4 linked regions of the Homo sapiens genome follow. The protein of the gene in region 4 interacts with the protein of the main gene of each other region in a pairwise test. Each region holds a gene or a part of one and is shown on either strand. Other genes may lie near its edges. The genes, in order: JUP, SMAD7, LHX4 and AXIN1.

Region 1 (7,023 bases), on a different chromosome or scaffold from region 4:
GGTGGTTTCATTAAATTGCAGGTTCCAGGGCCAGGCACGGTGGCTCATGCCTGTAATCCCAACACTTTGGGAGGCAAAGGTAGGAGGATTGCTTGAGGCCAGGAATTTGAGACCAGCCTGGACAACATAGCAAGACCTGTCTCGACAACAATAACAACAACAGAAATTAGCCAGGTGTGGTGGTGCACGCCTGTGGTCCCAGCTACTGGGGAGGGGAGGCTCAGGTCGGAGGATCGCTTGAGCACAGGAGTTGGAGGTTACAGTGAGCTATGATTGCATCAGTGCACTCCAGCCTGGGTGACAGAGCAAGAACCCGTGTCTTAAAAGAAAAGAAAAACAGGAGGCTGGGTGCAGTGGCTCACATCTGTAGTTCCAGCACTTTGGGAGGTGCAGGCAGAGGCGGAAGCGGAAGGATCACTTGAGGCCAGGAGTTTGAGACCATCGTGGGTAACATAGTGAGACACCCATCTCTTACAAAAAATTTGGAAAAAAAAAAAAGCCCAAACAAATAAACAATCTAAAACACACACACACACACACACACACACACACTCTCTCTCTCTCTCTCTCTCTCTCTCTCTCTCTCTCTCTCTCTCTCTCTCTCTGTCTCTCTGCAGGCCTGCTGCAGAGGGCTTGCCATTCTGTATGTCTTTTTTTTGTTGTTTTGAGACAATGTCTATTGCCCAGGCTGGAGTGCAGTGGTACATTCTTGGCTCACTGCAACCTCTGCTTCCCGGGTTCAAGTGATTCTCCTGCCTTGGCCTCCTGAGTAGTTGGGATTACAGGTGCACGCCACCATGTCTGGATAATTTTTGTATTTTTAGTAGAGATGGGATTTTGCCATGTTGCTCAGACTGATCTTGAACTCCTGAACTCAAGTGATCCACCAGCCTCAGCCTCCCAAAGTACGGGGATTACAGGTGTGAGACACCAGGCCCGGACAATTCTGTATTTCTTCTTTTTTTTTTTTTTTTTGAGACGGAGTTTTGCTCTTATTGCCCAGGCTGGAGTGCAATGGTGCGATCTCGGCTTACTGCAACCTCCGCCTCCCGGGTTCAAGCGATTCTCCTGCATTTTTTAGTAGAGACGGGATTTCTCTATGTTGGTTAGGCTGGTCTTGAACTCCTGACTTCTGGTGATCCACCCACTTTGGCCTTCCAAAGTGCTAGGATTACAGGTGTGAGCCACTGCACCTGGCCCAATTCTGTATTTTTAACAAGCTCGCAGGTGCTGCTCCATGGAGCACATTTCTTATGCCACTGGGTGTAGACGAGAGGGTTGTCCTCACACGAATGAGTGGACTGTATCATCCCCACGGATGTGTTCTAGCCCTGAGAACTGGGGATGGCTAGCGGCCACCAGAAAGTGGCACACATCACTCCTGCTCACACCCCAGAACTTGGTCATTCAGCCACATCAAGGTGCAAGGAGGTTAGGAAGTGTGATCACCAGCCAGATGGCCGTGTGTCCTGCTGAAAATCAGGAGAGCCACTACAGAGACACAGGGCACAGAGGATTCTGGGGACGCTTAGCATCTCCCATAGGGAGTTGGGTGTGTGAAGGAGTGGGGTCTTCTTCTTGAGGCTACCTGGGTGGAAGAGAGCTAGCTGTGTGTCACTTCCCTGTCAGGTGGGGGAAGTGAGAGTGGGTCAGGGTGTGGGCAGACCCAAGGGACAGAGTTATGGGGGAAAGCGTTTGTGTGTGTGTATATCTATATGTAGAGACAAGGAAGGCAGCCAAAGGCAAGGTGGCATCTGGTGCCAGAGAGTGAGGAAGCTACCATCGATGAGGGTCTTGTCAACGGGCACAGGAGCCAGCTGGCAGGGGCATCCGCCAGCTACATTTAAGACAATTTAATAGTACAGACAGGCCAGGCGCAGTGGCTCACGCCTGTAATCCCAGCACTTTGGGAGGACGGGGCGGGAGGATTACCTGAAGTTAGGAGTTCGAGACCAGCCTGGCCAACATAGTAAGTCCCCGCCTCCACAAAAAATACAAAAATTAGCTGGCCATGGTGGCATGTGCCTGTAATCTCAGCTACTCGGAAGGCTGAGGCAGAAGAATTACTTGAACCCGGAAGGCAGAGGTTGCAGTGAGCTGAGATCGCTCATTGCACTCCAGCCTGGGTGACAGAGAGAGACTCCGTCTTGGAAAACAAAAACAAAAAACATGGCCAGGCGTGGTGGCTCACGCCTGTAATCCTAGCACTTTGGGAGGCCGAGGCGTGTGGATCACGAGGTCAGGAGATCGAGACCATCCTGGCTAACACGGTGAAACCCCATCTCTACTAAAAAAATACAAAGAAATTAGCCAGGCGTGGTGGCGGGCGCCTGTGGTCCCAGCTACTCAGGAGGCTGAGGCAGGAGAATGGTGTGAACCCGGGAGGCGGAGCTTGCAGTGAGCTGAGATCGCGCCACTGCACTCCAGCCTGGGCGACAGAGCGAGACTCCGTCTCAAAAAAAACAAACAAAAAAACAAACAAACAAAAAAAACCCAGTGCAGATAAGAATGACTCTAAGTGATTCTACACATTGAATTATTATTTTTTATTATTATTATTATTTTTGAGACAGATTCTTGCTCTGTTGCCCAGGCTGGAGTGCAGTGGCATGATCTCAGCTCACTGCAACCTCCGCCTCCCAGGTTCAAGCAATTCCCGGCTAATTTCTGTATTTTTAGTAGAGACGTGGTTTCACCATGTTGGCCAGGCTGGTCTCGAACTCCTGACCTAAAGTGATCTGCCTGCCTTGGCCTCCCAAAGTGCTAGGATTACAGGCGTGAGCCACTGCGCCCGGCCTATACATTGAATTAAAAAAAGAAAATTCATGTTTAGAAAAAAAAATGTCATTGTGACCCCTCCTTGATGCTTGGTCCCTGCTGCAAACCTGAGGTGGGACTTTGCATCCTAACCCAGCAGCTAAGTGGCAAGTGACTTTGGCAAGTCATTTGCCCTGTGCTCACGTCCCCATCTCACATGATTTTCATCCCTGTCCTCCTGGCGTCTTGTTTTGAGGATGAAATAGATGACACCTTGAGAGGCTCTGGGAGGCCAGAGTGGCTCCTCTGAGTCAAAGACCCTGGGGAGGAGATCTCAGGACACCTCTTTCCAGAGCTGCCCTGCTGGGGATTAATGACAATGTGAGCACCACCCAAGCAGGAGGCTTCGGGGGCACCTAGAGCACAGAATTCCTGAGAATCAGGCTTGGAGGACTATCAGAAAAGCAAGCAAGGTCATGGTGTCTGTGGGGGGTGGTTAAGAAAGAGGGGACAGGGTGAGGGGCCAGGCATGGGGCTGGCAGGATGTTCTGGAATGGGGTGTCATTTTAGCAAGGGCTATTAGAATTAGCCATGAGCAGCCGGACGTGGTAGCCCACACCTGTAATCCCAGCACTTTAGAAGGCAGAAGCAGGCGGATCACCTGAGGTCAGGGGTTCGAGGCCAGCCTGCCCAACATGGCGAAACCCCGTCTCTACTAAAAATACAAAAAATTAGCTGGGCATGGTGGCAGGCACCTGTAATCGCAGCTACTCAGGAGGCTGAGGCAGGAGAATCGCTTGAACCCAGGAGGTGGAGGTTGCAGTGAGGTGAGATTGCACCACTGCACTCCAGCCTGGGTGACAAGAGCGAAACTCTGTCTCAAAAAAAAAAAAAAAAAAGAATTAGCCATGAGCACTCCCAGATCCTGTGGATTAAGTGACATGGCTGGGATGGTCTCCTTCTCTGGATATTTTCCAGTATGTCTGTGTCTGGCCTCGGGGACAGAAGAGGTGAAGGAGGGAAGGGATACTTGAAGCTGGGAAGCTGGGATCCTTCAGATGTCCAAGAAGTGCCCCTGATCACTGCCCCTTTTTTTGCCAGGCAACCATCGGCTTGATCAGGAATCTGGCCCTGTGCCCAGCCAACCATGCCCCGCTGCAGGAGGCAGCGGTCATCCCCCGCCTCGTCCAACTGCTGGTGAAGGCCCACCAGGATGCCCAGCGCCACGTAGCTGCAGGCACACAGCAGCCCTACACGGTATGTGAGCTGGTGGTGCCTCTGACAGCCTTCCTGGGGGGTCAGGGTGTCCTCTGTGGGTGTGTGTGTGAATGGGGAGGTCAGTTGCAACTGATGCCAATTCCAAGAACCTGTGAAGTTCATTCGGCTGTCATGGGGAGGAGTTGTGGCCATGTCCAAGGCACCTGTCCCATGCCCCCTGCCTCCTCTCACACAGGATGGTGTGAGGATGGAGGAGATTGTGGAGGGCTGCACCGGAGCACTGCACATCCTCGCCCGGGACCCCATGAACCGCATGGAGATCTTCCGGCTCAACACCATTCCCCTGTTTGTGCAGGTGAGTCTGGGGCAGGTGGGCAGGAGAGGTCCCCCCACCACTGCTTAAAGGGCAAGGTTAGGAGTCCCAGATTTGGGAGGCCTGGACCAGGTATCAAGAGGTCTTTGGAGGAGTTTGGAGGAAAGTTGCCACTCCAGATTGACTACTTAGCAACCCCCTGCATGGGCATGGCTTTCTAAGCTTCAAAGCAAGGAAAGAGATCACAAATGGAAAAAAAAAACAAAAAACAAAAAAACTTGAGATTCAACCATATAAACATGAAAACCATCTGTATTTCAGAAAGAACCTAAAAAAGCATTTTTAAAAAATCAGCAAACTGGGAGAATATGTGCAAGTACCATAACAGACAAGAAGAGTCTAACATCTTTCACATCAGTGAGCTCATTAACACTAGATTCCAATGGTTAGATGAGGCAGAGTCACAGGTAATTTCAAGGTAGCTCATGAACAATGCTCAGCCCAGTTTAAAGCAGTAACACTTACTCCCCAGTGACGGCCCATTTTCCACTATGGAATTGCTACAGGGTGGAGGTGGGCAGTGCTGTGGGGTGTGTTGTCCGGCCTGCCTCACCCCTTTCCACCTCTCCCCTGCTTCCCACGTCCCCTCTCCCCAGCTCCTGTACTCGTCGGTGGAGAACATCCAGCGCGTGGCTGCCGGGGTGCTGTGTGAGCTGGCCCAGGACAAGGAGGCGGCCGACGCCATTGATGCAGAGGGGGCCTCGGCCCCACTCATGGAGTTGCTGCACTCCCGCAACGAGGGCACTGGTGAGCTGGGGGAGGGCAGGAGGCTGGGTCCCACTCCCCCAGCCACGATGGAGGCTGGCCGACGTTTAACCTGGCTTTTCCTTTCCTCTCTGCTCAGCCACCTACGCTGCTGCCGTCCTGTTCCGCATCTCCGAGGACAAGAACCCAGACTACCGGAAGCGCGTGTCCGTGGAGCTCACCAACTCCCTCTTCAAGCATGACCCGGCTGCCTGGGAGGCTGTGAGTATCCTAGGTTGGACCACAGTAGTTGGTTGTGCAAGTTGGGCACTGCCCATGGGCAACACTTTTGGGGGTCTCCTACTACTGTCAACTTCATAGATTTTTATTTTGTAATTGGATCATTTATAACAATTCCTAGCAGATGGAAGTAGTGGGTTGAATCATATATCCACAAAATGCCAATTTTTATTTTGCCCAAATGAGTATACAGTGTTTGAGGTGGGGGTGCCTTTTTGTAATTTGCGTGGAGGTGCTGGATAGGCTATGGGCGGTCTTTTCCAGGGTGGGGCAGTGCCCTGTACCCATTCTTGAGTCCTCTGCCTCCTCCCCTGAGCTGCTCTAGTCCGGCAGGAGTCCCTGCTTCATGAGTGGGGAACCCTCCTCCCTGGGGAGTACCGAGGACATGAGTATATCAGGGCACTGGGTGACCCCATTTCATCATCCTCTATTCCTCCAAGGCCTCTTTGCTTTTCTCCAGCCCCCTCTTTTATTTATTTATTTATTTTTATATTTTTTGAGATGGAGTCTTGCTCTGTCGCCAGGCTGGAGTGCAGTGGTGTGATCTTGGCTCACTGCAACCTCCGCCTCCCGGTTTCAAGCAATTCTCCTGCCTCAGCCTTCTGAGTAACTGGGACTACAGGTGCACGCTACCACACCCGGCTAATTTTTCTATTTTTAGTAGAGACGCGGTTTCGCCATGTTGGCCAGGATGATCTCGATTGTCTCCTGACCTTGTGATCCGCCCGCCTTGGCCTCCCAAAGTGCTGGGATTACAGGCGTGAGCCACTGCGCCCAGCCTATTTTTTATTTTTTTCGAGACAGAGTCTCACTCCTGTCGCCCAGGCTGGAGTGCAATGGTGTAATCTCGGCTCACTGCATCCTCTGCCTCCCCATTCAAGCAATTCTCCTGCCTCAGCCTCCCGAGTAGCTGGGATTACAGGCCTGCACCACCACGCCCAGCTAATTTTTTTTGTATTTTTAGTAGAGACAGGGTTTCACCATGTTGGCCAGGCTGGTCTGGAACTCCTGACCTCAAGTGATCCGCCTGCTGTCTCCCAGAGTGCTGGGATTACAGGCGTGAGCCATGGCACCCAGCCTGGCCCCCTCTTTTAGAAGCATCTCTCCCTGCCCACCAGCTGAGATCCAGCTCGGAGCCTGCATTTTCAAACCTCCCCTCCATGTTTCTCTCTCCTTTTTCAGGCCCAGAGCATGATTCCCATCAATGAGCCCTATGGAGATGGTAAGTGTGTGCCGGGCTCTTCAGGACCCTGGAGATCCTGGGCGGCTGTGTGGGTGTGTGTGAGGGGACAATATTATGTCTCCGGGGCCAGAGGACCAGTGGCAACTGCTGTGTGGCATCCACATGTACCCCAGTCTAGATGCCCTGGTGTGGGGTCTGGGGAGGGGTCAGGCCCACCAGGGGTGGGCATGGGTAGAGGAGGCAGCTGAAGGCTGTGCAGACTGCTCCCTGCAGGGTAGCTTGCAGACCCTAGGACCGAGCCCCACTTTTTGTCCCCAGACATGGATGCCACCTACCGCCCCATGTACTCCAGCGATGTGCCCCTTGACCCGCTGGAGATGCACATGGACATGGATGGAGACTACCCCATCGACACCTACAGCGACGGCCTCAGGCCCCCGTACCCCACTGCAGACCACATGCTGGCCTAGGCGGCCTGGCCCCAGTACGGCCCCCTCTTTGCAGGCTT
Region 2 (7,023 bases), on a different chromosome or scaffold from region 4:
CCTTCCGAAAGGACCCTTTCAAAAGCTGCCACTTCCCTTGCTTATTTCATGTGGTTTGGAGGGGCCGGGGCTCCTCCCTGCACATTCAGGGTTTAAAAAATAAAACCATCTAACAACATCCTGAGCGTGTTATTCTGCTGAGACCCTTTCCTCTCATTGGCCTTCTTTCTTTCAAGAACTCTCTCAGCCTTAGAAAGCAGAAAAGATGCAGTTCACACACTGCTGCCTTTTCTCCCTCCTCAACTCCTCTGTCCACTCCCACCGTACTGCCTGAAGCCCCCTCCCTTCTCTAGGTCCCTCTTTTTCCTGCTCAATTCTCATTAGAAGCTTTGAGTAAACAATACCCTCAGTCTCAGATAACAGAGTATATATTGCATTGAAATGAAAACAAACAAGGGTCTCCCTAAAGACGTTCTCAGCAAGCTCAGTTCCTGAAGAGGAGAGCCGGGGAGGGAGCCGTCCGGGAATGAACTTTGCCTGAGCCAGCCATGGAAGACACACCACCAAGTAGTCAGAGCAGGTACCCCACAAAAAAGGGTGCCCCTCACACAAGAGGATACACCACAACAGGGCACAGCTTCTATTCGAGCTGCTACCACGTGATCCTACAGGCAAGGAAATGCCAAATGCCCAAAACTCTGCTGGAATTTCTGTTTTTAAGGTCGTTTTCCCTCTTGCTTCAGCCAGTTCTTAGAAAATCTAGTGATGACATGGTGGGGATGGAAAAACAGGTAGAAATAGGATTTCTTCAGAACAACATGAAATGCGTCCCATGTACATAACCAGTGAGTTTCTCTAAGTACTGCCCTCTTTTCGCATCCTCAGGAACAACAATGCTCTGGCTACCCCGTGCCTGTCAGCCAGCCCCGTGACCCCCCAGCACTGGCATTCCAGGCCTTCACGCATACCTGTGAGCCCTGAGGAAAACCTGCCCCGCTAGGGAACAATTACAGCTCCTACTGTTGGCAGTGCTCCCACCCTGGTGCTCCCAGCCCCAGACATGTGCTGCAAAATCCTGCAGCAGGCTGGGCTGGGAATCAGAACTTGGGAGGGAAGCCTCAGATCTACTCTGAAATCCCATCGTATGCTTGGGATCTGTCTTCAACAAGTTCCCTAAAGGTGGGTCCATTCCCTTTACATCCCCCATGCGCAAAGAGCAAAAGCAAAAAAAGAGCTCAAATGCATGAGTTAATGACACCAAAGTCACCAAGCTGAAGCCCCCCAAGCCAGGAGCTGCTTAAAAATAACCGGGCAACACTTCACACACCAAAGCAATCCCCAGCTCGCTCTTGTCTCCCCGTCCACGGAACGGATCCAGTGTCCAGAGCGTAAAGGACTGCAGGATGAGGAGCTGAAGGGCACCACAATGTCACCACCGATGCATCCAACTTAAGGCATATAAAAATGAGAATGAAGTCCAGACCAGCTGGGGTGGCAGAAGGCCACCCCCATTCCTCCAGTCTTTAGCAATTTCAAAAAAGGTTGGAATTGCCAGGAAAATAAGAGAAAGCATCTTACCTGAAAGCCCCCCAGGGGCCAGATAATTCGTTCCCCCTGTTTCAGCGGAGGAAGGCACAGCATCTGGACAGTCTGCTGTGGATTTGAAAAGGGGAGAGAAAGAAATAAATACACAAATAAAAACACCAAGATCCATCTTTAAGCACGCTCTAAACAGCATGAAAGACAAACCACACATTCCAAAAGGCTGACTCGCGGCCTTGATGCTGATTATTAATGGTCTGCTCAGGCTTCACTGCCCATCGTAAGACAGACCACAGCACCTTGTCACCCGTCTGGGCTCCGGGCAGCCAGTTAATCATTACTCGAGTCAGGCTCAATGAGACTGGCTGGAATTTCTCTTGCATTACCAGTCCCCCATTACGGATACCAGGTGGTTCCCAAGGTCAAAGGAGGTTTGGGTTGGACTTTCTCAACCCTGGTTGCTCTGTCATCCCTCATCAAGGGCAGAAGGCTCTCTCCTTGGAGCCCATGTCCTCTCTGCCTTCATCCTTTTAAAGACAGGTTTCCCAGTTCTTGAAAACATTCTCAAGATTGATGTTGGGCTGCCGGGACTTCTTTCCCCTTTTTTAATTGAGGACTAACTTAAGTAGAGCAAAGTATACAAAATCCCAAGTAGACGCAATGAATGTTACTCATGTATACATCTGTGTAACCACCACCAGATCAAGACAGAGAACATTCTCAGCAAGGCTCCGAGCCGGAGGGGAAATGTTCTACCTCTCCCAGGCTAGTCCAAACCCCTCATCTCTGGAAACCTTCCCAGGCAACCCCAGACCTGCTAAGGCTCTCTGCCCTCAGTTCCTATAAAACATTTGGCACCCAACACTCGGAGTTTCCTCACTGATTTTTACCTTTAGATTGCATCTGCCCTTAACTAGACTTCTCTTCAACTTCTGTCACCCTCAGGTACTCTGCACAGTGACCTCACCGTTAATGAGGATAATGACAATTCCAGCTGAGAAACAGTCTCCACAACCGCCCTCCAAGCAATTAAAGCAAAACCTAATGTCCATGAACCACAACTCATTAGTCCCATGAAACACAAATACACAAGACCCTGTAAGCTTGTCATGCACCACTGGCAGCGCCAAACTCCCTGAAGTCCTAGCGGAGAGCCCGGCTAAGGAAAGGTGCTGCCCAGGTCCGCAGCAAACACAACAGGTTGGATCGTGCAGACACCAGGCCTCCTACCCCAGGCCACCAGGACAATGTCCCTGTGGGTTTCCAGTTGGAACCACTTGGCCATGCTGGCAAATAGGAAAGCCAAAAAAAAAGAGCAGACGGGCAAGTAGCCCATGGGAATCCTTTAGTGGCCTACACATAGCCCCAAACCATCTCTGGGTTTCTGCTGTCTGCCCTCTTAATGCTAAGTTTCTCTCTCTAACTCAGGGTCACTCCCTCTCCCACATTCTCAAGGCTGGAAGGACAACTTTTCAAGAACTCTCCTAAGCGGGCGAGGGGCAGAAGTGGAGGCAGGCGTGGGGGTGAGGTGGCTGCGGTGGGTAGGGGGAAAGAAGACTGTGTGTGTAATCTCATTTTATCAGGGTAAAGTCTAATTCCTAACAGGAATATACAGTTTTACAGGATACACTTAATCAAACAGAAAACAATAGAGGCAGGCAGGAAATGGAGTTACTTGTTAAATGGTGTATACCCTGCACTTTCTAAACCATTTTGATGGCCTTCATCATTTTCTAGAGATAGGCTTCTCAACCCTCTCCTCCACCCACTCCTCCCAGATGGAAGACACCCCCACATTAAACATAATGACTTATCCACAGCCACTCCCCGCCACCTTTGGCTGGCAGAATCCCAGGGGCAAGGTGTGTTTCAAAGGAAAAGCCGGGCATCTCAGAGCAGAGCTGAGACCACATTCAGGGTGTCAGCCCATCTCAGATCAAAGGTAAGCCAGCTCCACACAGGCAACCACAAGCATTTTTGTGAAATGGTGCTCTGCCCTTCTGCAGTGGCTTTGATCTCAAGAGGGATTTACAAACGTTAATTAAGCCTCCCTACCACCCCTGTGAAGAAGCAAAGTATACCTGTTCCATAGGCAGCCAGGTAAACTGAGGCGTCACTGACTAGCTCAAAGGGCCACCCAGTGAGCTGGGCTATTCCCAAGAGTCCAGCCCTATCCCATGGCTCTCACTCCCCAGGCAGGCTATGGAGTCCCTACCCTCTTTCCTGGAGGTGGCCAGGCCATCCAGACTGGCCTCAAGGTTAAAGGAGCCATACCTCCATCTCTCACCCACAGAAAAGCTCCGCATAGACAGATCTCTGAAGTCAGGGTCTCACCTTAGGCCTGTGTCGCCTGTTCCCCAGAGCCCAGGCTGGCTGGCAGACAGAAGCTCTAGGCCACTCCTGACTCACGCAACACTAAGTGTTATCAAGCACTTGGTAAGCACTAGGTTCTGCGAGAGAAAAAGACTCATTCCTTTCTCCGAGCAGCTCCAACAGAGTCTTTGAAAACCCAACCCTGGGGAGCAGCCAAGGAGCGAACTATTGAGAATGAGTACAAGGTAAAGGAGCTGGGAGTCCCACGATAGTCTCAGCAACTGCGTTCTGAGCTTCCTAAGTACTGTTAAAGACAGAGGAGCCCCTACTCACCACTGTACCCCAAGGGTCCCAGCTCTGCCCCAGGTAGTTCAACCAACCCAGAACTCAAATGAACCCTGGTTATAAAAGAACACAGCACTGCCAGGTGCAGTGGCTCACGCCTGTAATCCCAGCACTTTGGGAAGCAGAGGTGGGCAGATCACACGAGGTCAGGAGATCGAGACCATCCTGGCTAACTCGGTGAAACCCCGTCTCTACTAAAAATACAAAAAATTAGCTGGGCATGGTGACGGGCACCTGTAGTCCCAGCTGCTCGGGAGGCTGAGGCAGGACAATGGTGTGAACCCAGGAGGTGGAGCTTGCAGTGAGCCGAGATCGGGCCACTGCACTCCAGCCTGGGCACAGAATGAGACTGTCTCGGAAAAAAAAAGAACACAGCACTGCATCGGAATCCTCAAATTTCTAGGTAGGCACATCATCATGCCTGTAAAATGAATGACTGAACCAATGAATGAATAAATGAATGAATGACCTAATCTCTTTCATCATGCTGATTTTAAAAGAGGCCTAGAAAAGTTAAGAGGGACCTCGGTTAAGAGAGAAACGCAGTGCCAGATCTCAGGTCAAGACACCAGACTTCCGATCTGGATTTGCAGGCTGGATCTGCCCATGGATACTGGCCACCTGGGTCCCTCAAGAGCTCACCCAGCAACCCCCCAAGGCCAGCCATTCCTCAAACCTTTCAGACCATCAGATACAATGAAACACGGGAAGCAGAGCCCACACAGCTATCCCCGAGATCCAGCTTTAAACAGCAAATTCTGACTTCTTGTGGGATGTGGAGGTGGGGGTGTCTTTCTGACTTCTGACAGCCACAAGTCACAACTGGCCTCCCCTAGGTTCAGTCATGTGAACACTCTTTCAAAGAAGGCTCTCCTGGTTGGACCACACAGTACCTAGGTGTCTAAAGTCCAGGCCTCCCAGATGCTGAGTGGAGTGGCTTAAATTATAGCAAAATGGAGTTCCTAGCTTTGAGCCCTCTGTGTCTCCAAAGGCTGCAGGGTACCAGGCCCCAGCCCCATTCCCACCACCTTTTCCTAAGATGGAGACTTCACAGGATGTATTCCTTTAGTTGTGCAACTGGTTAAGATTTTAACAGTTGTCCACTGTAAAACTTTGTGCCTGTTTCATCTAGTAACCCAAGACCAAAAATTCAACCTAAGGGACATAGAAACTGAAGAATGTAAATGGTCCATGTAGATTCCCGGGCCAAACATTCTCCCATACGCAAAATGGGGATGAAGACCTGGGTCAGCGCCCATCTGTGGTCTGACCTCAATGCCCCCGGCCACAGCAGCTGGCAAAACCAGCCCCAGACCTGTGAGGGGGGCGGGGGGGGTGTGCTCCAGCTCCAGACCTGGCTGTCCTCCAATGTGGCAGGACAATTCCCTTCGTGGGGGCTTTGTCTATTACTGATGCTAAATTCTTACACAGCAGCGCCTTTTCTCATTTCTTTTTTTGTTCTATTTTCAACAAAACGTTTTGGGTGAGTAACCAGCTGTCTTAGTTTCCGATTGGCAGGTTAATCACTTCCTATTGGCTGATCTGGAGAACTTTTCTCCCCCTTGGAAATGGCACATTCCTGTCTTTGTGGCTTCTCTGTTTACACACATTTTGCTACCTAATGTCAACACTTGCTAATGAATAAATATATCACTCCACTCACCGAAAATGAGGCCCTGGCCTGGCAGAATGACTGCTTAAATCCTGAGAACAGATTTATCCCAGTGTCTCTGCAGGAAACCCAAGGGAACATGGCCTTTCTTTTCTATGGTTTTTGGAGGTTTCTGGGAACATTTACCCCTGCTGGTCTTTATCCCTGGGGCTAAGGTCACTGTTCTCTCTCTTTTAAGGAAAACCTCCAAATTTGAAGAATATGGAAGGACAAAAAAAACAGGTCAGAGGTGGCCCCTTGGAAAATGAACTTCATAAAAGAATTCTTGATTCTTTAAGCCAAAACCCAGTCAAGTTACAGTCTTTAGGAAAACAGAGCTTGGTAATTCCAGTTAACGTTTGTTACAAATACAGAGAGCTGGGTATCTCCTTATTAATAACCATTTATCTGGTGTTTTGTAAATCGAAAGCAAAATATCACATGCTTTGCGGGCCACTTATTAGACCGGCACCAGGCAAGCAGGAACGCCTTCCCAACTTGAGGGAGCTGGTAGAGTCCCAGGAGGACTGGCTGCAGAGTATGGGCTTCGGTTACACGTTCATTAAAGTATTTAATTTATGACAACGCCCCAGCAAAACTTTTAATTAGTGGGGGGAAAGGCCCAACAGCCAAAACGCAGGAGGCGGAAGGACTTGCAGAATTCCAGGAGCTAAATGGTGCCCAACCCTTCACTTTTCCTTCTCCCAGAACCTTGGCAAAATAAAAATGTCCCAAGTATTAATGTTTTTTTCAGGCACCAGTATACAGGCACAAAAACCAAGGTTACATACAACCTGTACTTTTAGCAAACAGATCTATCTCCTACTGTAAGAGGGAGCTCCAGGAATTTGGGTTTGTCCTTGTTGTCACCCCCAAGTTCATTTTGCTGACCCTGTCCCCAGCACTGTGATGTCCAGAGGATGGACCCCTGTGCTGCTGCCGGCCAGAAGTTGAATGCAGACAACCACAACAGGGCTGGTGCCAGTCTCAAATGGGCTTCTGCCATGGCTTCATGCCAGCCAGTGACAAAGCAGCAGACAGGCAGAGCTATGCTTCAAACTTTGATAGTCCCTATGGCGAATACTGAGAAAACCCCGGGAGAGGACTGACTTGCAGGTGACTGGAGCAGGAGGAACCTACCCCCCCCCCCCTTTTACTGGCTGTTGCCTATACTTCTGAAAAGTTCTAGTGTCTACTCCAGACCAAAGTCTTCTTTGCACCTTTTTAAACCG
Region 3 (7,023 bases), on a different chromosome or scaffold from region 4:
GCAGGCCGGGGAGGTCGTGCCATCTTAGTATCTCTGATGAACGGCACTAGACTTCCAAAGGTGTCTTGGTATCTCTGAGTCCATCTGCTGTGATGGTTCATCCCTGACAAGTTGCCCTAATCTCCCATGACATCACAATTGACTTCAAGGCAATAGCATGGAGTGAGTTTTAAGAAACCAGAGCAGATTAGTACATTGCAGGCAAAGAGCCTTGGGATGGGTTTGCAGAGGCCCCAGGTCTCTGGAGGAAGGAGGTCAAAGGCCTCTGTCCACCCTGAAAGGCCAGAGCTGTGGGGGTGGTGGGAGGGAAGGTCCTCAAAGAGACAGGAAGCCCTGCCCACTCCTGCCATGGACCAAAGCCAAACCCAGCTCCAGCTGGCTCACCTAAAGGGCCCTTATGAATCCCCTCTGCTTCCTCACCACCACAATCCCCTTATTTTATACTGTGTTCAATGAACAAAAAACCAGTTTCTCCATTATTGATGAGATCTGTATAATATGTGTGTGGGCCCAGAAAAGATCTAGAAGGAGATACATAAAATTGTTGTTAATTTTTTTTCTCATCAAGCCCAGAGCTGTCAACAAGAGCCGTTTTTGCACAGTAACACCCTGAGTTGATCAAAATTCTAGTCAAAGGCCAAGGAACTTGATGTTTTGTGCGTTCACACCTCTGAGGTTATCATGTTGGGTTTGGCCAAATCCCAAATTCAGAGCCAGGGCCTGACCCCACGACCATGTGGGTGCATCTGGGAGTGAGAAGCCAGAGGTAGGGCTGCAGGAATAAAAGTGTCCACCTTGGCTTTGCGAGGGGAGCATGGGGAATGTGTTGTTCTGGGCTCTACGCTGGAAAGTCCCCGGGCTGCCCAAGCGCATGGCATGTAGGGCGAGAGCCGCTGCCGCCAGGCCAAGCTAGGCCTTTCCAGGCGTGGCTGCTAAATGCGGGACCTGACTTCGGCCTCCACCATGCAGAGCTCCTGCTGCCACCGTGGGCAGTGGCCCTGCAGTGGTTGTGGTGAAGGGGGTGGGGGCAGCTATATTGAAGTGGGTGGAGGGAGCTATATTGCTGAGACGGAGCCTCCCTGAATCTGGCATGTGTCCTGCCTCTTCTTTTAGCACTCACTGGGCACTTGCAGAAACTCCAGGAGGCCCTGCCCTAGAGGAGCCCACAGTCTGCGAGGCGAACAGAACACAATTAACAGACAGATGTATGAAGTGTGCAGAGGCCAGTGCTGGGCTCTCACCGACGGCCTTTGAGGCAGGGGCTGCTGAGAGGTCCATGTGCACCCTGATGTGCAAAACTAAGCGGCAGCCCCACGTGTCCAATACAGACCAAGCTCCCAGCCACCCCTCAGCACCCCAGCCTCCACCCAGGGAAGGAGGCCACCACCATGGTAACAACCAGGTTCTTGGCTGCTTCTGAGCCTACCATGGAGACAGGCAGGCTCTCAGGAACCATGGCTGGATGAACACTTCCATGAAGCCGGCGAGTGCTAACGGCCGGGGAGGTGTTCAGCATTTACTCTCAGTGTGGAGATCTGGGACGCTTCTCAGAGGTGGCGGTGCATGAGTAGGGCTCTGAGGGATGGGCAGGTGGGACGCCATGAGAAGGGCACCTCAGGCAGAGGGCGTGGCCCAAACAAAGGCCTGGAGAGGGGACCATGCGGGGCCATGCTGCTTACCGTTCTGCTTGGCTGTCTCGTAGTCTTCCTTGCACACCAGCCGCCCGTCCTCCATGAGGTAGAATTCGTCCCCCGTGGCCAGCTGCCGGTTGCAGATGATGCAAGCAAAGCAGTGCAGGTGGTAGACAAAGTCCTGGGCCTTGCGGACCACCTGGGTTGGGGGGATACCCTGCTGGCAGGCCGTGCATTTTGTGCCGAAGCGCCTGTCAGGGCAGCAGGAAAGGATTAGGGCACACAGGGAGCAAGGGATCTGGCTTCCCCCAACTTCCTGGAGCAGCCTCCCTCCTACCCCACCACTCCGGGACTCCATGAGCCTCACCCCCCAGTCACCCAGAGCTTACCGTCTGGTCCTCTCTGCCTCCATCTAGCTTCATTGCTTTGTGCCTGGGACTCTTCAACCACCAAAGAAGGGACTGATGAGAACTAGAGTCTCCCTCAGGTACCTTTTCCAAAGCTGATGCCCCCGGATTCCAGCTGCCCGATTAACACCCATCAATTCACAGGGGGAGCAGGTGGACTTTCTAAGTCCCTCAAAGCAGGCTGTCTCCCCCTCCACCTCCCAGCTTCCTCACCCTTATGGTTGATCCCAGAGGACATCCTCACAGGGAACTGTGTGTGCCACAGGCTGTGTGTAGAAAGCACCCAGCAACACCTTTTCACACACTCCCAGGGAGGAGGCCCTGCCTGGCCAGGGGACAGCACGCTGCAGAGAAAATGCACTTTGTCAGCAGAGCAAGGCTGTCCTGACAGCTGTTCTCTCTCCTTTGCCTCCATTTCTCCCCTCACCTCCATTCTGCACACACAAAGCCCTCCAAGCCTACCTCCATCCCCTTCCTATGCACGCACACAGCCTGGGGCATGGTGGTTTGGGAAGGGCCCAGGAAGCTGCACTTTTCAGCCCCTACAGCATTCGGGACAAGGAGTCTGCAGATTACAGTTTGGAAAATGCTGCTTCAGACCTCTCCTTGGTCAGCACCTTTCCAGAACAACACCGAGGCAAAAGGAAGCTACCTGCTGCCACCAAGGCAGCTTCTACCAAGCAAGCCACCCCCTGCCAAGGCCGGGAAGGAAGGAGAAATTGACACTTAAAAGTATCGTCCAGTGGGGTTGTTTCCACTCCCTTTCCCCATTCTGGTCATAGAGATCAACAGAGGCACACCGATGGTCATAGGAGACGAGGGAAATTTGGGGGCCGACAGGGACAGTGAAGGAGGGTGCGTGGCTGCAGGTGAGCCTTCCCCGCTTCAGGAGGGAGGCGGGAGGCATTGGGAAAGCAAGGGCAGAGTTTAAAACAGCAATCAACCTAATTATTCATGACATTTCACACAGCAGAACTTTATCTTCTTCAGGATGAAAGACTTCGCCTAATGGATCTGGGGAAGGTTTGATTTTAATGGTCCTTTTAACTAATGCTTATAGGCAGCCTGATTTCCCCTGAAAGGACAGTACATATTTCATCCACATTAATACCAAATAAATTAATTATGGTCATGGCTATCATGATGAATACCAGATTAATGCAGAATGATAGGTCTGTTATGCAGTAATGATACCTGCTGAGGGGGTTATGGGGGCCCGGAATAGGCATGGCCAGCAGCAGCCTCAGACGCCCCCCACCAGGGACACAGCATCCCAGAGAAAAGTGGGGGTTCTCTAAGTCTGCATGGGTAATCCTGAAAGACCCAGAGTGTACTTCAGGGAACACTCTTCTGAGATGGGTATAAGAAGGGTGTTGGGGTGTGAGGGGCTGAGAGGTGGTGGCTTGGGAGGACCCCAGGCTTCTGAATTCCTGGAATGCCTCTTGGTTTTCAGAGAGATGGGGCCCATTTAGAGCAGGAGTTCTCTGCGTGAGGGTCAGCATAGGCCTGTAAACCACCTGCTAAGTTGTTCAAAATTGTGCCTCAGGAGGGGACCTGGGTTTTCATCAGATTCTTAAAGGGATTCAGGACCCAGGAAAGTAGAGTTAATATTTGTTGAATAAATAAATCAGCAGATAAAGCACCATACTTGTAGAGGATGTGCACGGAGATGGCCGAACCTGAGGATGTAGAACAAAGCACACAGTCGGCTCTGGATGGTTCTAGACCTCCCAGAACACAGGTGAGAACCAGGTCCTCCACAACTGCTGTGTAACCACATCACCTGGATCAAAGAGGAAGGCTGGCAGGCACCCACCTCTACTGTGTGTGTGTGTGTGTGTGTGTGTGTGTGTGTGTTATGTGTGTGTGTATAACAGAGAAAGGAAGCCTACACATGTGTTACTAGAGAGTGTTTTCAAAAGGCCTGTATATTTAATATCCAATCCCAGCCAATTTGCAAAGCAGGTACTGAAATGAAACAAGGCACCAGGTGTGGTGGCTCACGCCTGTAATCCCAGCACTTTGGGAGGCTGAGGCAGGAGGATCACTTGAGCCCAGCCTGGGCAATATGGTGAATCCCTGCCTCTACAAAAAATGCAAAAAATTAGCCGGGTGTAGTGGTGTGCACCTGTAGTCCCAGCTACCTGGGAGGCTGAGATGGGAGGATCACCTGAGCCCAGGGAGGTTGAGGCTACAGTGAGCCAAGATCACGCCACTGCACTCCAGCCTGGGCAACAGAGCGAGACCCTGTCTCTAAATTAATTAATTAAAATGAAACAAGGCTTTCATCATGCTTGTTGCGAACCCTCCCAACAAACCACGCAAATCTGGAGAATGTGTCCTAACCAGAGATCCAAGGAGAGGAGGGCTGAGAGGAGACCCCGGAACAGAGGGAAGACCCTTCAGCAGCCTCCTCCACAGGGGCCACACTCTCTCCCACTAAAAAGCAGGCAGGGGGCTTTCAGTCACCGGAGGCCCAGCTGACACCAGCACACCAGAGACATGAAAGATAACGGGGGTATAAATTTAATCTACATACCGACAGTGATTCATGCATGAGGGTGGCAAGTGCACAAGAAAAATGAAAAATAAGTGGACTTCCCCACCAGCGTTTTTTAGCAATTGAAGCAATTTTCCTGATTGTGGGATTTATACTGAAGGGAAGTGGAAGTGGCTCCTCATTACCTTTTCCCCTGGAGCACAGCCAGCGGGACCCTTGCCGAGGGAGCCGCATGCAGCACCTCCTTGGCCCACAAGGCTCCCCCGGCCCAGCCCAGCCCTGCAGATCACCCTCCACCCCATCTCCAGTCAGAGCCAGTGTATCTAGAATACAGGGCATCCTACAGGGGTGTGTCTGTGATGGAGACACTGTCCCCATTCCCAGATCTTAGAATAGCCAGAGTCACAGGTGAGAAGGCCAAAGCCTGGCAGGTCACATGACTTGCCCTGCGACAGGCAATAATGAGACACACGGTCATGCCTAGAATTCCCTGGCCCCACACGAGGTAAAACTGTGAACCCGGCTGCTACACAGAGAACCAGAAGTCTAACCAACTGGACCAAATATGAAGGACGCTGGGGTAAAGAGGGAAAGGCTGGACTCCAGCCAAGGAAGAGGGCTCCCAAGGGCTTTTCCAAGCAGCACCCCTTAACACCGATCACCGGGCACCCATGCAGGGGCACCAAGGGCACTGGCCTCACCCTTCAGAAAGATAAGCCTGCTGCCCAGTCCTGCTAGCCAGGCCTCTGGGGACAACCAGTCCCCCCAGGAGAGCAGCTGGAGCTGATCCAAAACCACAGAGAAAATGCAAGGAAGACTTGCTAATGGCTCATATTATTTTCATCCTCTAACCAACACCACTGGAAATTGTCTTATCCCTGCCCAGCACATAGTAGGCAAGCCACAAAGACCCAATGAATGAATGAATGAATGAACGAATGAGCAAACGAATGAGTGAACGAACGAACTGCTTCTTAAAACATTTGCCTGAGTAGTCAGGGGAGGCTTGGCTCTCCATAATGGCAGCTCTTTTCTTTTCTTTTTTTTTTTTTTTCAAGTTTGGTATTAACTTTGTTCTATTTTTGGTCTAACTTTAAGTACCTAAAGATTTATTTCCACAGGCCTCAGAAAATGGGTAGAAATCACAGGACAATCCCTCTTCCCACCAAAAAAAGTTGCATACTTTGGTAAGTGTTTATCCTAGAGGGAAAAAGCTGAAATTTACATTAGCAGTGCTGTGCAAGATTCTGACATAAATCACGACCTCAAACCAGCCTGCAGTGGAGGTTCTAGTCTTCTGTTCAGGCACTTGGACAGAAGCCATAGCTGATGAGCATGACAGGGAAAAGGAGGCAGTAAAGACAGGTGACAGGCACCTTGTAGGGAAGGAGGATTCAGGAATGCCAGGCTCCTTGGAATGGTGTGCTGTTTTTCCTTTTTTTTTTTTTTTTTTTCCTTTCAAAGTCATCTCTGTAGGAAGGTGCTGGGCAGCGATCCCAGAGAAAGAAAGGTCCAAGACTCCTTTAACTGTCCTGGATGAAGGGCAGTGCTACAGCAGCTAGTACCGGAGACTCTCCTATCTCATGGTTGAGGCAGACCCAGGATAGAATAGAGAATAAAAGGAATGCTTATAGGAAACCATTTTGCATGGAATGCTAGATGGCCAAGCCTCAGCCTTTGGTCCAGTGCAACCCTTGCCTCACTTGTCAACAGTGAAAAATTAGTTTGGTTAGAGGAACCATCTGGAAACACACCAGCTTCTGCTAGCTTCATGTTCATTGCTAGAAAAAGATTAACCAGTGTGAACATTCTGATCTGTTAATTCCTGGGATTGTTTTCTTCCCGAAGGACTGTTTGTTGGTAGGATAACCCCCAAAAGCTCAAAGCTAAAATGCATCATCAGTCCTGGTTGGCAGTTCCTTAAGAATGGACTGGCGGCGTGAGCGAGCTGATATGGACAAGCTGCCCCTTCCTGCAGAACATCAACTGACCTACTATCTCACCCCAAATCTCTGCCTGAGGTATATTTCAGTGAAGGCAGTTAGTTGTGCTTCTCAGAGCAGAGAAGCAGTTTTAAGCTCTTTTCTTTAGGGGTGAGGGGATCTCACTCGGTTGCCCAGGCTGGAGTGCAGTGCCACAATCATAGCTCACTGCACTCGAACTCTCAGTCTTCCCACCTCGGCCTCCTGAGCAGCTAGGATCACAGGCACATGCCACCATGCCCAGCTCATTTTTTAAGACATGTTTTGTAGTGATTGGGTCCTACTATGTTGCCGAGGCTGGCCTTGAATTCCTGGTCTCAAGTGATCCTCCCACCTTGGCCCCCAAAGCACTGGAATTACAGGTGTGAGCCATCCCCTTTGCCTCTGCTGTCATTAGCTTCCCCTCTGCTGGCTCCTTCCATCCATGTACAGGCATGCTATGATCCCTGCCTGCCTCCCTTCTCTACCGCCCACTCCCCGCACCCTTCAGGGCAGCGCCCCAC
Region 4 (7,023 bases):
AAGACCTTGGGGAACAAGAGAACAAGTTGTGACTGTGGCCGACACCCTGGCCAGGTGGCCTGGTGGGGCTACACTCATCTCACAAGGGCAGCCTCCTTGAGGGATAGGATGGGATGGGGCACTGGGGCCTGGCCACCAAGCCACATGGACGTCCTCCACAGACCACACAATAAAAACATCCCGGCCAGGCATGGTGGCTCACACCTGTAATCCCAGCATTTCGGGAGGCCGAGGCGGGCAGATCACCAGAGGTCGGGAGTTCGAGATCAACCTAACATGGTGAAACCTCATCGCTACTAAATATACAAAATTAGCTGGGCGCCTGTCATCCCTGCTACTCTGGAGGCTGGGGCCCGAGAATGGCTGGAACTGGGGAAGTGGAGGTTACAGTGAGCCGGGATCACGCCACCGCACTCCAGCCTGGGTGACAGAGTGAGGCTCAGTCTCAGGAATAAAAAAGACAACAAAAAACCAACCCTCATTTGCCTGTAATCCCAATACTCTGGGAGGCCAAGGTGGGTGGATCGCCTGAGGTCAGGAGTTCAAGAACAGCCTGGCCAACATGGCAAAACCATGACTCTACTCAAAAAATACAAAAAATTACCCAAGTGTGGTGGTGGATACCAGTAATTCTAGTTACTCGGGAGGCTGAGGCAGGAGAATCGCTTGAACCTGGGAGGCAGAGGTTGCGGTGAGCTGAGATTGCACCACTGCACTCCAGCCTAGGCAAGAGTGAGACTCCATCTCAAAAAAAAAAAAAAAAAAAAAAAATGGCCAGGCGCGGTAATCCCAGCACGCTGGGAGGCCGAGGCGGGTGGATCATCTGAGGTCAGGAGTTCAAGACCAGCCTGGCCAACATGGTGAAACCCTGTTTCTACAAAAATACAAAAAGTTAACTGGGCATAATAGTGGGTGCCTGTAATCCCAGCTACTCAGGTGGGTTAGACAGGAGAACCACTTGAACCTGGGAGGTGGAGGTTGCAGTGCGTTGACACTGGCCTGTTGCACTCCAGCCTGAGCCACAGGAGCGAAACCCCATCTCAAAAAAAAAAAAAAAAAAAAAAAAAGGCCAGGCGCGGTGGCTCACGCCTGTAATCCCAGCACTTTGGGAGGCTGAGGAGGGCGGATCACGAGGTCAAGAGATCGAGACCGTCCTGGCTAACACGGTGAAACCCCACCTCTACTAAAAAAATACAAAAAATTAGCCGGGCGTGGTGGCGGGCGCCTGCAGTCCCAGCTGCTCTTGAGGCTGAGGCAGGAGAATGGCATGAACCCGGGAGGCGAGGCTTGCAGTGAGCTGAGATCAGGCCACTGCACTCCAGCCTGGGCAACAGAGCAAGACTCCGTCTCAAAAAAAAAAAAAAAAAATTCTTTCATGGAGACTTTTTTTTTTTCTTTTTTTGAGACAGAGTTTTGCTCTTGTTGCCCAGGCTGCAGTGCAATGGCTCGACCTCGGATCTCGGCTCACTGCAATCTCCGCCTCCCAGGTTCAAGCGACTCTCCTGCCTCAGCCACCGAGTAGCTGGGATTACTGGCACTCGCCACCACACACGGCTAATTTTTTGTATTTTTTTTAGTAGAGATGGAGTTTTTGTCATGTTGGCCAGTCTGGTCTCGAACTCCGGACCTCAAGCGATCCACCTGCCTCGGCCTCCCAAAGTGCTGGGATGAGGCTTCTTTTTTTACATTTTATTTTTAACAGCTTTACTGGGATACAAATTATATACTAATCCTAGAGGCCGGCGGATAGCTTTGAGTCCAGGAGGCTGAGACTGCAGTGAACGGTGTGATTACACCACTGCACTTCAGCCAGGGTGACAGAGGGAGACTCTGTCGCAAAAAATTAAAAAAAAAGTCTTAATGAATAAAAAGTATAAGTATGTCTCAAAGTGGAATGTATTAATACTTATCCTAAAATATGGGACATGCAATATTTAGTATATACAGCTATTTAAAAAAAGGATTCGGCCGGGCACGGTGGCTCACGCCTGTAATCCTAGCACTCCAGGAGGCCGAGGCAGGCGGATCACCAAAGGTTGGGAGTTCGAGATCAGCCTAACATGGCAACCACCCCCTGCCCCGGTCTCTACTAAAAATACAAAAATCAGCCGGGCGTGGTGGCTCACGCCTGTAATCCCAGCTACTCGGGAGGCTGAGGCAGGAGAATTGCTTGAACCCAGGAGGTGGAGGTTGCAGTTAGCCAAGATTGCACCACTGCACTCCAGCCCGGGCGACAGAGCTAGACTCCGTCTCAAAAAAAAAGACTCGAAGGCCAGGAATGGTGGCTCATGCCTGTAGTCCCAGCATTTTGGGAGGCCAAGGTGGGAGGATCACTTGAGCCCAAAAGCTTGAGACCCAGCTGGGCAACACACTGAGACCCCCTCTACAAAAAATGAGCCAGGCAAGGTGCTGTGCACCCCTGTTCCCTCGGGAGCCCCAGAAAAACGATGAGCCCGTCCCCACCTCAGTCAGCACCGATGGGGACCCCAAGGCCTTGCGGGACAGGCTTCCAACACAGGCAGGAGGGCCACGCCCCAGGCGCTCAGCTGCCTCACAAGTTCTCATCAAGTAATGTGGAGGGAGATGCGTCCTGGCCAGGGCCTGGGTGAGGGTGGGGGGCAGATCAGGACCTAAGTCTGAGGAAGCTGGGGCCATCCACCCACCAGGGCCAACACTTCCCAGCTGACCTGCCTCTGACCACGACAGGAAGGTGGGGGGTACCACCTCTGTGGGGCCCCTGGCCCTCCTGCTGGGTTCCGGGCACGAGTGCAGGCCCAGGGGGCGAGCAGGAGCAACACCAAGACCGGCCCGGCGGGCAGCGGCAGGGGCTGGACCTGTGGCGCCGGGGCCTTGCTCCACACCACACACGAGGCCTCTGCCCTTCTGGGAGGAGAGAAGTGCTCACGCTACACAAGAGCCTTCCCCAGCCCTCAGCAGGACGGCCAGGTGTGAGCACAGAAGGCTCCTCCGTGGGCACCTCGGGAGTGATGGTCAGTGGGGGCCTTCCCAGGTGACTTAGGTCATTCTCATGTGGGGGTCAGACTGGAAATGACCTCCCGAGAGCATCTGTGCTGCCTGCGGGGTGACAGCCACGTCAGCTTCCCTCCTGCTCGGGGCTTCAGGGACAGCCTCTCTCTGGGGACATGAGGTTTTCCTCCTGGAGACGTGGGGCCCAGGGAGCCTGCTGGAGGGTGCCCGGGAGGGTGCCACAGTGACAGGGGAAGTGTGAGGCGTCACAGGCGACACTCGCCACACACACTGAAGCTGCACACACTGAGACTGTGCGGAGGCCAGGGGTGGCAAAGCAGGCCCCACGAGGCTGGCTGCGTGCGGGGTGCTCACCCGTGGCCGGTCCTGCGGTGCCTGCTGATCTCCTTTTCCCCCTCAATGATCCACTGCATGATTTTCTGGTTCTTCTCCGCATCCTCCGAGGCACCTGGCACCTCGGTGCTGGCGCTCTTCCCCGACTCAGCCTTCTTGGCATTTCTTTTGCACGCCACGCCCACCTTCCCACTGCAAGGGCAAGAGCTGCGAGTCGCCCTGGCCTCCGGTGGCCGAGGCTGTGCCCCTTCCTCGTCTGCGAGGCCCCCTCCTGGCATCTGTAAGGCTCCCGTGGTGCAGCCGCCGCCCGCTGTCCCCTGCCCGCTTGTCCCCCACCCGCTGTCCCCCGCCAGCTTGTCCCCCACCCGCTGTCCCCTGCCCGCTGTCCTGGTGCTGTCTGGGGGTTGGTTTCCTCTCTAAACACACAGGCAGTCACTGCTCACCCCCTGAAGACTGAGGGCCAGAGCGGGAGCCAGGGTCGGGCTGTGTCCCCTAACCTTCATCTCCCACCTGAGGTCACGGCGTGGACTCCCCTGACCCAGGGCCCAGTCCACTCCCTCCAGCAGAGGGGCCTCCTGCCTGTTGCTGGCGGTCCTGGGTTTCCTGAGTTTTATGAGGAGGTTCTGGCCTTCTGCAGGGACACAGCCTCACCCCAAGCCCCCTCCTCACTGACAGGCGCACGCTCACCTGTGGGCGAGGCCATCACTGGCGTTGGGGGCAGCGCCAACACTCTCTGAGTAGCCTCGGGACCTTGCCCCATGGCTGTGTGGTTCCAGGCCCCAGGCGAAGCTGCTCTGGGCCCTGCGGGTGGCCTCGGCCTCCACCTGCTCCTTGGGCCGGGCTGTGCTGTGGTGGACGTGGTGGTGGACGTGTCGGTGGTGGTGCAGGCCGGCCGCGTCCAGCTTCGCCCCTGACTTGGGTACGTGCTTCCCGTGCCCCGAGGCGGCACCCCCCAGTGCCACTGGCATCTTGGCCACGTGCCCACTGTCCGGGGAGCGATGGCCAGGCCCAGGCGACTGGCGGCCAGGTGTCCTCAGCACACGCTGTACGTGCTCGTCCAGGATGCTCTCAGGGTTCTCCTCGTGTGCATCCCGGAGCCCGGCACAGCCCATGTCCACACAGCGGGGCGGGAAGTGGTGCCAAGCGGGGGCGGGAGGCAGCTTGTGACACGGCCCTGGGGGCCCTGACGATGGATCGCCGTCCTCACCTTCCTCCTCCTGTGTGGGGACAAGCAGCACCATCACCTCTCAGCACCAGCTGCACACTTGGGGAAAACAAAAAGCATCAGGCCTGACCCAGCAGCCCCAGCAGATGCCGTCCCAGCCCAGGGTGGCCGGGGGCCCCTCGCCACCGGTCCTGTCCCTGAGGATGGAGAGGCAGGACGGGGCATAGACAGAAGGAGCGGAGACAGCAAGGCCTCAAGGAATGCAGCGTATGTATCGGCTGTGGGCAGAGCTCTGCACAGATTTAGTTTAGTTTTATTCTTTTTTTGAGACAAGTTCTTGCTCTGTTGCCCAGGCTGGAGAACAGTGGTGTGATCTCAGCTCACTGCAGCCTCCGCCTCCTAGGCTCAAGCGATCCTCCCACCTCAGCCTCCAGAATAGCGGAGACCACAGCCGTGTGCCACCACGCCCAGCTAATTTTTTTGTACTTTGGGGACAGATGCGATTCTCACCATATTGGCCAGGCTGGTCTCGAATGCCTGAGCTCAAGCAATCTGCCTGCCTTGGCCTGTATATATATATATTTTTTGAGACAGAGTCTTGCTCTGTTACCCAGGCTGGAGTGCAATGGTGCCATCTCGGCTCCCTGCAACCTCTGCCTCCTGGGTTCAAGTGATTCTCCTCCTTCAGCCTCCCAAGTAGCTGAGACTACAGGTGTGCGCCACCACACCCAGCTAATTTTTGTATTTTTAGTAGAGACAGGATTTCACTATGTTGGCCAGGCTGGTCTCGAACTCCTGACCTCATGATCCACCCACCTCGGCCTCCCAAAGTGTTGGGATGACAGGCATGAGCCGCCGCGCCCGGCCTCCCATTATATTTTAAGGAGAACCTTGTACAGAACGGCTCTTGGGTTATGTACATGTTGTGATGCTGCCTGACGAGCTTCCACATGAAGCCGGTGGAGTTTCACTTGATTCTCCAAGTTAACAGGTGCTGAAGCTTATCTGTCAGAGCAAACATTTGATCACTTTAATTCCAAGTTGCATCTCATACTTATTTTCTCATCTTATTGGACTGACAAACTAAAACAGTATTGAGTAAATCTGGTGTCAATACAAAAGAAAGAGAGGGAACTAAGTTACCATGTATCTATGTATGTATTTATTTATTTAGAGTCAGAGTCGCTCTGTCAGCCAGGCTGGAGTGCAGTGGCACGATCTTGGCTCACTGCAACCTCCACCTCCCGGGCTCAAGCAATCCTCCTGCCTCAGCCTACCGAGTAGCTGGGATTATAGGAGTGTGCCACCATGCCTGCCTAATTTTTTTGTATTTTTAGTAGAGACGGGGTTTCACCATGTTGGCCAGGCTGGTCTCAAACTCCTAACCTCAGGTAATCCACCACCCTCGGCCTCCCAAAGTGCTGGGATTACAGGAGTGAGCCACCACAACCGGCCTATTTATTTTCATTTTTTTGAGACAGAGTCTCGCTCTGTCACCCAGGCTGGAGTGCAGTGGCACGATCTCGGCTCACTGCAACCTCCGTCTCCCGGGTTCACACCATTCTCCTGCCTCAGCCTGCCCAGTAGCTGGGACTACAGGTGCCCGCCACCACGCCCGGCTAATTTTTTATATTTTTAGTAGAGATGGAGTTTCACCGTGTTAGCCAGGATGGTCTCGATCTCCCGACCTCGTGATCTGCCCACCTCGGCCTCCCAAAGTGCTGGGATTACAAGTGTGAGCCACCGTGCCCGGCCTATTTTTATTTATTTAATTTTTTTTTGAGACGGAGTTTCACTCTTGTGTCCCAGGCTGTAGTGCAATCTCCGCCTCCCGGGTTCAAGTAATTCTCCTGCCTCAGCCTCCCGGGTAGCTGGGATTACAGGCACCCACCACCATGCCCAGCTAAATTTTTTGTATTTTTAGTAGAGACTGGGTTTCACCCTGTTTGCCAGGCTGGTCTCGAACTCCTGACCTCAGGTGATCCACCCACCTTGGCCTCCCAAAGTGCTAGGATTACAGGTGTGAGCCACCACACCTAATCGCAGTGGTGCCATCACAGCTCAAGGCAGCCTCAACCTCCAGGGGTCAAGCGATCCTCCTGCTTCAGCCTGCCAAGTAGCTGGGACTACAGGTGCATGCCACCATGTCCCATTAATTTTTTCTTTTTCTTTTTTTTTTGTAGAGATGGGGAATCTCACTATGTTGTCCAACCTGCTCTTAAATTCCTGGCCTCAAGTGATCCTTCTGTCTTGGCCTCTCAAAGTGTTGGGATTACAGATGTGAGCCACTGTGCCCCACCTACCTCTATATTTTAATATAAACAAACCTCCCAACGTTTAGCACCCAACTCTCACACCTGCAAAAGTATCCAAATGCAACTGGAACAGGCGTGCCCCAGAGCTGGTGTGGGCTTGGCTGCGGGCACCTGCACTGGGGCTGAGGGTGAAATATGGCACTAAAGAGGACAGACGGATGCTGGAGCAGAGCCGGGGGACAGGTGGGTGGTGGGCATCCCCTGGCGGATGCAGCTATGCTG

Evidence for each region.
Region 1: the proteins of AXIN1 (region 4) and JUP interact in binary tests that used the Homo sapiens proteins (3 or more experiments, as listed by UniProt).
Region 2: the proteins of AXIN1 (region 4) and SMAD7 interact in binary tests that used the Homo sapiens proteins (3 or more experiments, as listed by UniProt).
Region 3: the proteins of AXIN1 (region 4) and LHX4 interact in binary tests that used the Homo sapiens proteins (3 or more experiments, as listed by UniProt).

Annotation. Positions count from the first base shown.
Region 1 is NC_000017.11:41,755,706-41,762,728, reverse strand, and holds part of JUP (junction plakoglobin), read left to right. Parts: intron 1-3,858; coding exon 3,859-4,014; intron 4,015-4,210; coding exon 4,211-4,330; intron 4,331-4,944; coding exon 4,945-5,095; intron 5,096-5,192; coding exon 5,193-5,314; intron 5,315-6,514; coding exon 6,515-6,554; intron 6,555-6,833; coding exon 6,834-6,985; 3' UTR 6,986-7,023. UniProt on the Homo sapiens protein: Common junctional plaque protein. The membrane-associated plaques are architectural elements in an important strategic position to influence the arrangement and function of both the cytoskeleton and the cells within the tissue.
Region 2 is NC_000018.10:48,940,963-48,947,985, forward strand, and holds part of SMAD7 (mothers against decapentaplegic homolog 7), read right to left. Parts: intron 1,846-7,023; exon of another isoform or gene 1,697-1,845; coding exon of another isoform or gene 1,594-1,696; coding exon 1,519-1,593; intron 1-1,518. UniProt on the Homo sapiens protein: Antagonist of signaling by TGF-beta (transforming growth factor) type 1 receptor superfamily members; has been shown to inhibit TGF-beta (Transforming growth factor) and activin signaling by associating with their receptors thus preventing SMAD2 access.
Region 3 is NC_000001.11:180,261,251-180,268,273, reverse strand, and holds part of LHX4 (LIM/homeobox protein Lhx4), read right to left. Parts: intron 2,072-7,023; exon of another isoform or gene 2,044-2,071; coding exon of another isoform or gene 2,021-2,043; intron 1,883-2,020; coding exon 1,680-1,882; intron 1-1,679. UniProt on the Homo sapiens protein: May play a critical role in the development of respiratory control mechanisms and in the normal growth and maturation of the lung. Binds preferentially to methylated DNA.
Region 4 is NC_000016.10:293,714-300,736, forward strand, and holds part of AXIN1 (axin-1), read right to left. Parts: intron 5,492-7,023; coding exon of another isoform or gene 5,471-5,491; exon of another isoform or gene 5,298-5,470; intron 4,586-5,297; coding exon of another isoform or gene 4,562-4,585; exon of another isoform or gene 4,547-4,561; intron 4,539-4,546; coding exon 4,009-4,538; intron 3,514-4,008; coding exon 3,343-3,513; intron 6-3,342; coding exon 1-5. UniProt on the Homo sapiens protein: Component of the beta-catenin destruction complex required for regulating CTNNB1 levels through phosphorylation and ubiquitination, and modulating Wnt-signaling.